Linked DNA regions of Homo sapiens. The protein of the gene in region 1 purifies or fractionates together with the protein of each later gene. This does not show direct contact. Each region holds a gene or a part of one and is shown in the gene's direction. Other genes may lie near its edges.

Region 1 (3,755 bases):
CCTGTGGGGGGCCCTTGGTGCCCGTCTGAGGCTCAGTCTTTGAGGGGATTGCAGAGGGGGGTTGCTGGAGCTCCTTTTAGCGTCTCTGAAGGGGATTCTGTGTGAGGGGATTGGGACTGGGGGGTTGGGGAGCAGGAAGCAGTCCCCAGGGGAGCCATCCAGGCCCATTCAAGGGTTGAGCACTTGTTTAGGGTTAGAGCTGCCCCCTCTGGGGACCGGGATTGTCCAGCCAAGGCCATTGTCCTGCCCCCTTCCCCCAGTCCCTCCCAGGCTTCTTTGAACCTGAAGTCAGATATTTTTTCTCCACACCCCCCACCCCCTGGTTTTCCCCACCCAGGGCCTAGGGCTGGAGGCCTGGGCCAGGGAGGTGGGGGAGGGAGAACGGGGCCTACCGTGGTATTAGATGTCTGAGTTTTGGTTGAGAGGGGAGCAAGGAACCTGATGTGCAGGTTCCATAGTGGAGGGGGCCCAAAGCGGGTGTCTTATCACTCTGTTTCAGCAAAGGTTGGGAAACTGAGGCCCAGTCAGTCCAAAGTCTGGTCCCTTGAAGGGGAAGTAGGGACCAACCCCTTAGTCTGTTAGATGAGGAGAGTCTGGAGTCTGATTCTGGAAGACGGAGGGGTGGGGGGATGGGGGGGTGGGGGGATATAGCACGGAGGCCTTGTCTGGCAGTCTACTCTTGAAGATGGGGTGAAATTTGGCAGGCTGGGCAGATGGTGCCAGGCACCCAGGCTGCGGGGTGGCTGGATTTGGCCAGTATCGGGATGGGAATGCCTAGGATTCTGGATGGATCGGGGGAAGGCATAAGGGAGCAGCTGGCCATTGTGCTTATGGCTGTTGATGCATTGAGGGATAGCGCCACACACACATTCAATAAATTTGAGGAGCTGAGAGGGTGACTGGCCCCTGAAGGCACAGTGCCAGAGGTCTGTGGAGAGGGGGTCAAGCACCTGGGTTCCTGAAGAACATGGAGGTGTGGGAGTGATTCCAGACAGCTGGGATGTGCAGAGCCTGAGAGAGTGCCAGGGAGCGGGTTGGGAGTTGAAAGTTGGGTGTGGTGGCTCACGCCTTTAATCATGACACTGGGCGGCAGAGGCGGGAGGATTTCTTGAGGACAGGAATTCAAGACCAGCCTGGGTAACATAGCAAGGCCCCATCTCTACTAAAAATAAAAAAACTAACAGGGCACAGTGGTCCAAGCCTGTAGTCCCAGCCACTTAGGAGGCTGGAGCAGAAGGATTGCTTTGGCCCAGTAGATCGAGGCTACATTGAGCCATCATTGTACTCCACTGCACTCCAGTCTGGGCAACAAAGTGAGACCCTGTCTTAAAAAATAAAAATAAAAAAAGTTTCTGTGGGGGACCTGCACTGAGGTCCTGGAGGGGCGCCAGTTGTGTCTCCCGGTTTTCCCCTTCCACAGACACCATTGCCACCACCATTAGGCAAACATCCTTCGCCTCAGTTTCTCCCCCCACCTCCCTCTCCTCCACCCATCCAGGGGGCGGGGCCAGAGGTCAAGGCTAGTGGGTGGGACTGGGGAGGGAGAGAGGGGTTGAGTAGTCCCTTCGCAAGCCCTCATTTCACCAGGCCCCCGGCTTGGGGCGCCTTCCTTCCCCATGGCGGGACACCTGGCTTCGGATTTCGCCTTCTCGCCCCCTCCAGGTGGTGGAGGTGATGGGCCAGGGGGGCCGGAGCCGGGCTGGGTTGATCCTCGGACCTGGCTAAGCTTCCAAGGCCCTCCTGGAGGGCCAGGAATCGGGCCGGGGGTTGGGCCAGGCTCTGAGGTGTGGGGGATTCCCCCATGCCCCCCGCCGTATGAGTTCTGTGGGGGGATGGCGTACTGTGGGCCCCAGGTTGGAGTGGGGCTAGTGCCCCAAGGCGGCTTGGAGACCTCTCAGCCTGAGGGCGAAGCAGGAGTCGGGGTGGAGAGCAACTCCGATGGGGCCTCCCCGGAGCCCTGCACCGTCACCCCTGGTGCCGTGAAGCTGGAGAAGGAGAAGCTGGAGCAAAACCCGGAGGAGGCAAGTGAGCTTCGACGGGGTTGGGGTGTGGGGAGGTGGTCATGACAGGGCAGCCTGATGGGGAAGTGGTCACCTGCAGCTGCCCAGACCTGGCACCCAGGAGAGGAGCAGGCAGGGTCAGCTGCCCTGGCCAGGGAGGGGTGTGTATCAACTGCTGGCAGCCCTGGCAGGCAGGGGCCAGGTGGGAAGTGGAAGCTGGATTTCGAAGAGACAACTGCCGGTGAGGGCAGAGCAGCCTGGGAGAGTCGGAAGCTGGCCCAGGCTGGCCTTTGCTCTGGCCCAGCCCTTGTCAGGGTCTCTCACATCTCCTAGGCCTGCCCAGGGTCTGGTCACTCATTACTGGCCCAGCACCAGACCCAGCTTGGGGTTGGTTTGAGCCCCTTTTCCCACCCTTAGTCCTGCTTGAAAATTTGACCCTTATCAGACCCAAGATTTTGGCCTTAGGGTTAAGCATAGCCTGAGGGTAAAAACAGTGCTCATTCCAGGATTATTGTTCCTGAAAGTCTAGGGTGTGACTCGTTTCTGATAGGATCTCCTGTTTGGGCTGTGTGTGTGCGCGTTGTGAGCTGGGTTTACCTCCAGTCAAGTATAGGGCTTGTCTTCCCCGGATCTCTGCCTCAGGCCAATGACTGGCCACTGTGTTAAGGTGCACACCCTGGCACCCCTTGTAGAAAGCTGGATTTTGATTGACTTCAGCCTCAGTTCCAAAGTTGTAAACAAGAAAAATGGTGAGAGATTTCTCCAGGCCATTTGCAAATATAGAGCTGCTGCGGGATTGAAGGCATCCAGCCCTGCTGAGGACTATTAAAGATGTATCTTCCAGTCCTTCAAGGCGACAAGTGTAAGCAATTAGAGATTAAATACTAAGCCTTGAGACCTCACAGAAAGGTGTGACTGGTTTCTGGAGTGACCGAGAAGCCCCAACCTCTTCGCAGGAGGTCACTGCTGAGCCTTGAATGATAATGGCTGGCAATTGTGGTCCACTTCCTAAGTGCCTGGCTGTGTGCTCCGTTTATACATCATTATCTCATTAACCAGCACAAAATCTCCTAGGGGGAGGTATTATTATCCTATTTAACGGGTTTTAACTGCTAAATGATGAAGCGAGGATTTGGACCAGTGTTTATTCCAAAACCCCAAAACAGAATTTGGAAAATCCAAGATAGCAGAGGGCATTTATCAGTTTGAGTTATTGGCTGAGCAGAAGTTGGGGATGAAAACAGCCTATTTGAAATTGATATGATCAAGCACCATTGAAACACTTCCTTGAGGCTTCAGAACTACAAAAAGGCCTTGTTTTTTTCTCACTAGCTGTGCACCTCTGTCTGCCGGCAGCCTCATATGGCATGCCCCAGGGCTCAGTCCTTCAACCTCTGCTCTATCTACCCTTCCTTCCTCTCACCCACCCTCAAGGCTTAAATGCCATTTAGACACCAGATGACTACCGCGTTTTCTGTCTCTTGTGATGGCTCCCTGAACTGCTCCACCCTGATCACCCAGTTGCTCAAGGCCAAACCCAGTCATCCTCAGTTTCTTTCATGTCCTACATCCTATCCTTAAGAAACATCCTGAATCAATCACAACCTAACCCTGGCCTCAGCCACCATCATCTCTGCTGGGATTACCGCAGTAGCTTCTCAAATTATACTGCTTCCTCCCTACTGTCTGTGGCCAACACGTCAACTAGAGTCAGTGTTTTAAAAGGTGTGGCCAGGCACTTTGGGAGGCCGAGGC
Region 2 (2,784 bases), about 51 Mb from region 1:
ATAAAGCTTATATTTTTGCTTTGGTGATACTTTGGATTATTTTAGTTTTTTTAAAATGACCAGTAGAGAATTTGGCAGTATTCTCTAGTGCTGCACTTGGCTTCTGTATCAGTAAGAATTCTAAGATTGTAAGCAACAGAAGCCCACTCTGGCTAACTTAAGGAAAAGATAATTTATTTGAGGGATATTAAGATTCCATAGACTTAGCTGAAAGACCAGACAGCCAGGCTTGGAAACAGAAAAGACGCATAGTAGCACTGGAAAGCTCAGAAGCAAGATTTAGAAGACTTGTACAACAACAGAAAGTATCTCACAGAATAAAGCTATTGGAATGAATGAATTTTAGCAACCATTTTCAGTTTCTTTTTCCTTCTGCTCAAGATTCAAATTGAAGAGCGCATGGGTATCTCATGATTCTACCTCACACCTCAAGCTTTCTCCTTGCCACAGAGATAGCAGGATACCTGATTTAAAATGCAGGATACCTGATTTAATTTCACTGTATTGTATCCATGGAAAGTGATAGTTCCTCAAAAGGAAATTGGAAGGCAAATACATCCTGCTTAGTTTATAATTAAAAGAGTAAAGAGTCTTCTTTCCCTTCCTCCTTTCAGATTGAGGAGCATGCCATACAAGATTTATTGGTTTTCTATGAGGCATTTGGCAACCCTGAAGAGTTTGTCATTGTTGAAAGGACACCGCAGGGACCACTGGCAGTACCTATGTGGAATAAGCATGGATGCTAGTTCACTGTGGAGTTGAGATGCATTTTACATAATTATGAGTTTGTTCATATAAAGAAAAGCTGTGGAAAAGAGTCTTAGAGATTTTGTAATATCATTCTAAATAGATTAAGAAAAGATATAATTTCTTTACTGCAGTTAAATCATATAATGTTTGTATGATTAAAAATAAATTTCTCAGAATTGTGATTTTAGTAACTTTATATAAAATGTGTGAGACAAAAACTTATTAAGGTTAAATAGAATTGTTTCTTCTGAATAATCTAACAAAGGAAAATATAAGTGATTGAATCATAAGATATAAGGGGGGTAAAGTATTAAAAATAACTTTTTTGTTTGATAACTTGAGAATTTAGAAGATTTTGCCAAGTATGTGTTGTTGCTTGACTTCTTAAATATGGCATTGATGAATTTAAAGTAGGAGCATCAGTTATTACTTCTGATTCATTAATGGCCAGAATTTTGTGTTTGGTGTAATAGTTGTGTCACCATTCTTGTTGCTTTTTAAAAATCAGGCTAATCATGTGGTCCATGTCTCTTCAAAGCTTGACCTGCACAAATGCCATATTTCTATTTGGACCACATATTCTCCATTTTGCATTGAGCAGTAGAGTACAGTGGAAAGGGAATAAGAATACTGATTATTCTGAACAGTTTAGTCCCAAGAGAATAGCGTTTTAAAAAAGAAAAACAAGATTTGGAGTCATTGTGGGTTATTTTTGGTGGGATGGAGGATCTTAAAAATGCCTAATTGTGAGAGAATCAATTGCTGAAAGTGTTAAAATTTCTGAAAATAAATGCTTAATTACATATACAGGAATTAAATAGTTTGGAAGAGGGTTGGATTATCATTACCTTTACAATACTGTATAATCAGAAGTTCTCTGAACCTCAATTGTATATCTAGACATAAAAATTGTTTTCTGTATAGGATGTTGTTTGGTTTGTTTCTGAGTGTTTAAATTTTGCAAAAACAAATGTTAAATTTGTGCTTCAGTACCTAGATAAATTGGAAAGGTTAATGTTCTAGTTTCTGGAAGGTAAGCCTGGGAGACACATAAGCAATTCACTGCTATAATTTAGTTGATGTAAAATGACGGAAACTGACTCAATATGTCAGGTTTAACTCTGCCCAAAAGCAGCAGACATGTAAGCAGATGTGCAATAAAAAATGATCTTGATCCATTTCACTAATGTGTGCTTGACATTTTTTACTATATTGACATTTATTATGGAAAGAGTTAATAATTATTTTTTCTGATGTGCTACACTAGTGGCCAGTATATGGTTAAGTTGATGCTGTATTTATTCTAAGACGGATTTAAAAAGGCAGTTTTCTAAATATGAACTTGTGAATTTTTGTATGTGTGTTTGAGTAAATTGAGAAATGAATTTTATAAATGTTCTATTGATGTTGCAGTAAAGAAGCCTTTTGAAGTAATTGATTTCATTTGAAGCTTTGATTCTTCTGTATATGTTGACATCTTTAATATTTACAGATGCTGTAAAGTGATGATTTTCTTGCTGTCCTCCGTGCTGCCTGGGAAGCACTCTTGGGGGTCTTTGTTGGATGGGGTGTGAAAGAGGGGCAAGAGCTGAACCGCATCTGTGAGGCTTTAGGCAGTTACAAACTACAACCAGAGCAGTTGCACTTTATGGTCTGTTTTATGTAGTGAGGTATTATATATAATTTTATTGGGAAAAAAGGAGTTCTTTTGCTAGTAAAGTTAAAGAGAAACACTGTCATAAACTGTATTTCTTCATAAATAATTCCATGAAGATAGCTATCTGACACATTGCTGTCAAAAAGCCCAGGAAAGTGATAAGGGTTTTCTTTCTCCCCTAACAAAATAACATTATTCTGCTACAGTATTCATCTCTAATTCCATAACCTCAAAAAGACCTGATAGAATTGAATAAATACTGGAAATGACAAATTTAAAATATCAGTGGGATAGAGAGATCTTTAAGATTTATGAAAACAATTACAGAACTCTTTTTTTTTTTTTTTAATTGAGGCACAATCTCACTCCATCACTCA
Region 3 (3,620 bases), on another chromosome or scaffold:
GGTAAAGAAATGAAACAAAACCGTTAGATTATTATAAAACAGAGTGACAGCTTAAATTTGTCAGTGTATAAGAATTTTGTGTATACTTGAAAAACACTGGCCTGGCAACTTAGTAGAAGATAAATTTGAGTTGTAGTGTTTCTGTAGTTGAGAATGAGTGAATGGAAACCTGTAGAAGCAAAGCAGTTAGGAGAAAATCATCTAGAGAAATGTTAGCCTTGAGAGTGAGTTCCACAACCACTTAGCTGTAGTGGTTGAAGGAGGAAAGAATCCTACCTCCAAATTACAACTTTACAAGAAACAGAACTACTAACCTTGAGAAACCATTATTTATGCCATTTATCAGCCCAAACTGAAAATTTAGTGCTCAAAGCTGGCACTATTGTATAACACAAGTTGCAGCATAAATTGTTAAAACCCTGTTGAAGGGCCGGGCATGGTGGCTCATGCCTGTAATCCCAGCACTTTGGGAGGCCGAGGTGGGAGGATCATGAGGTCAGGAGATCAAGATTATCCTGGCCAACATGGTGAAACACTGTCTCTACTAAAAATACAGAAATTAGCTGGGAATGGTGGCACATGCCTGTAATCCCAGCTACTCGGGAGGCTGAGGCAGGAGAATCGCTTGAACCCAGGAATCAGAGGTTACAGTGAGGTGAGATCGCGCCACTGTACTCCAGCCTGGTGACAGAGCGAGACTCCGTCTCAAAACAAAACAAACAAAAAAACCTTGTTGAAAATCATTCATTCATTGAAGAAGTATCTATTAATTACCTTCTCTGTGTCAAGTGTTTGGTAACTGAGCAAATATATAGCTTTTTTAGGAAGCAGTTTAGAACACAGTTTGTTAGTCTTGAAAGTATTCACAAACATTTCCATTTTTGAGAATTTTTCTTTCTTTTTTTTTTTTTGAGACAGAGTTTCACTCTTGTTGCCCAGGCTGGAGTGCCGTGGTGCGATCTCGGCTCACTGTAAGCCCCGCTTTCTGGTTTCAAGCGATTCTCCTGCCTCAGCCTCCTGAGTAGCTGGGATTACAGGCACCTGCCACCACGCCCGGCTAATTTTTGTATTTTTAGTAGAGACAGGGTTTCACCATGTTGGCCAGGCTGGTCTCAAACTCCTGACCTCGTGATCCACCCGTCTCAGCCTCCCAAAGTGTTGGAATTACAGGAGCCACCCTGCCCGGCCAAGAATTTTTCTGATAGAAATCCCTAGGAAGGAAAAAAGTAACATGCCCAAGAATATTCATTGTATCACAATATAATAACAGGACATTTGGAATAGCTTAGGTGTCCAGGAGTAGGGAACTTGATAAGTATATTCTAGTGTATTGATTTGATGAAATAGGATACAGCCATTAAATAATTATGAAGATTGGAGAAGAACGTACAGAATCAACAGGGAGAAGTGGAAATTACATACATGTAACGTTGAACTATATGAAGTTGCTAATACATGGACAAAAAGACCTGAAGAGAATGTGAGAAAGTATAAAATGGTTGATTATGGTAATGGGATTAGGATTTTTTTTTTCTTTCTTGTATCTGGTATTCTTTTTTTTTAAATTTATTTTTTTGGAGATAAGAGTCTTGCTCTGTCACCCAAGCCAGAGTGCAGTGGCATGATCTTGGCTCACTGCAGCCTCCACCTCCTGGGTTCAAGCGATTCTCCTGGCTTAGCCTCCTGAGTAGTTGGAACTACAGGCGCACGCCACCATGCTCGGCTAATTTTTTGTATTTTTAGTGGATATGGGGTTTCACCATGTTGGCCAGGCTGGTCTTGAACTCCTGAGCTCAGGCAACCTGCCTGCCTCAGTCTCCCAAAGTGCTAGGTTTACAGGTGTGAGCCACCACGCTTGGCCCTGTATCTGGTATTGCTAAAATGCTTGGGTAACATATTTTCCTTTAAAATCTTCAAGGACTGACAGGATAGATCACATCCACATCACTCTACATTGATTCACCTGGAAGCTTTTGTATTACAGGGCCATTATGGTAGTGAGTGCACAATTGCAGTCCACTCAAATATTCATTAAGTTAAAATCTTTTTTTCTTATGAAACTTTATGAAACATTTCACACATGCACAAAAATAGAATACATAAACACTCATCATCAACTATGATACCATTGTCACACCAAAAAAATTAGCAGTAATTCTTTGATATCACCTAATAACCTGACTATTTTCTCCACTGTGGCTTTAGATATGTTGGCTATACTGTTAGCTGACCTCATAGTTAAATCAGGATAATAACCATCCCAGTTTTACTGGGACTTGGGGCTTTCAGTGCTACATGCAGGCAAACCAAAACAGTTGGTCAGCCTACTGTCAGCAGCAGACTGCAAGGTCAGTGTGGTTGTTTTAAGTGTATCTTCCTCACCATCCAAGTGTGCACTCCCAAAATTCACACTCAGTCAGAGGAAGAATTGTTTATTAATTAGATCTGGGAGTTGATGCTAAGGGAATTTCACAAACAATGAAGTTAAGACAAGTTCCTCCCTTTAGTGAGCTCACTGTTTCAAGTGGAGGATCAAGACCATTAGAAATAAACAAAGTCGAAGCCAGGTATGGTGGTTCACGCCTGTAATCCCAGCACTTTGGGAGGCCAAGGTGGGTGGATCACCTGAGGTCAGGAGTTCGAGACCAGCCTGACCAACATGGAGAAACATCTACTAAAAATACAAAAATTAGCCGGGTGTGTTGGTGCATGCCTGTAATCCCAGCTACTCAGGAGGCTGAGTCAGGAGAATCGCTTGAACCCGGGATGCGTGGAGTTTGCAGTGAGCTGAGATCGCACCATTGCCCTCCAGCCTGGGCAACAAGAATGAAACTCCATCTCAAAAAAAAAAAAAAAAAAAGAAAGAAAGTCAGAGGTTAAGTGGTGTGGATGATCCAGAGGGAGGAGTTGAGAAAGTCAGGGTAGGGTCAGAGTAATTGAATACTCAGAAACATCAAATTGAGCCTTAAAAGATTGGGTAAAATTTCTAAATTTTAACCGATACATACTATAGCTAGGACTTTTAAACTTCCTCATTATAACACAAATTTTGGGATAAGAAAACGTGTGTAAAAGGCCATTTGGGCTGGATGCAGTGGCTCACTTTGGGAAGCCAAGCTGGTAGGATTGCTTGAGGCCAGGAGTTAGAGATTAGCCTGGGCAACATAGCAAGACCTCATACAAAAAAGTTTTGGTCTTTTTTTTTGGAGACGGAGTCTCACTCTGTTGCCCAGGCTGGAGTGCAGTGGTGTGATCTCCGCTCACTGCAAGCTCCACCTCCCAGGTTCACGCCATTCTCCTGTCTCAGCCTCCCGAGTAGCTGGGACTACAGGTACCTGCCACCATGCCTGGCTAATTTTTTGTATTTTTAGTAGAGACGGGGTTTCACCGTGTTAGCCAGGATGTTCTCAATCTCCTGACCTCGTGAGACCTCATACAAAAAATTTACAAATTAGTAGGTAGGGCCAGGCACAGTGGCTCATGCCTGTAATCCCAGCACTTAGGGAGGCCAAGGCAGGGGGATTGCTTGACCAGGAGTTTAAGACCAGCTTGAGAAACACAGGGATACCCTGTCTCTACAAAAATAAAAAAAAAATTGGCTAGATGTGGTGGCACGTGCC

The links.
Region 2: the proteins of POU5F1 (region 1) and IBTK purify together in Homo sapiens (affinity purification with mass spectrometry, with the first as the bait; one large-scale study listed by BioGRID). This does not show direct contact.
Region 3: the proteins of POU5F1 (region 1) and PDCD7 purify together in Homo sapiens (affinity purification with mass spectrometry, with the first as the bait; one large-scale study listed by BioGRID). This does not show direct contact.

Annotation. Positions count from the first base shown.
Region 1 is NC_000006.12:31,168,482-31,172,236, reverse strand, and holds the start of POU5F1 (POU domain, class 5, transcription factor 1), read left to right. Parts: upstream 1-1,554; 5' UTR 1,555-1,616; coding exon 1,617-2,021; intron 2,022-3,755. UniProt on the Homo sapiens protein: Transcription factor that binds to the octamer motif (5'-ATTTGCAT-3'). Forms a trimeric complex with SOX2 or SOX15 on DNA and controls the expression of a number of genes involved in embryonic development such as YES1, FGF4, UTF1 and ZFP206.
Region 2 is NC_000006.12:82,169,387-82,172,170, reverse strand, and holds the end of IBTK (inhibitor of Bruton tyrosine kinase), read left to right. Parts: intron 1-614; coding exon 615-746; 3' UTR 747-2,184; downstream 2,185-2,784. UniProt on the Homo sapiens protein: Acts as an inhibitor of BTK tyrosine kinase activity, thereby playing a role in B-cell development. Down-regulates BTK kinase activity, leading to interference with BTK-mediated calcium mobilization and NF-kappa-B-driven transcription.
Region 3 is NC_000015.10:65,120,294-65,123,913, reverse strand, and holds part of PDCD7 (programmed cell death protein 7), read left to right. Parts: intron 1-3,620. UniProt on the Homo sapiens protein: Promotes apoptosis when overexpressed.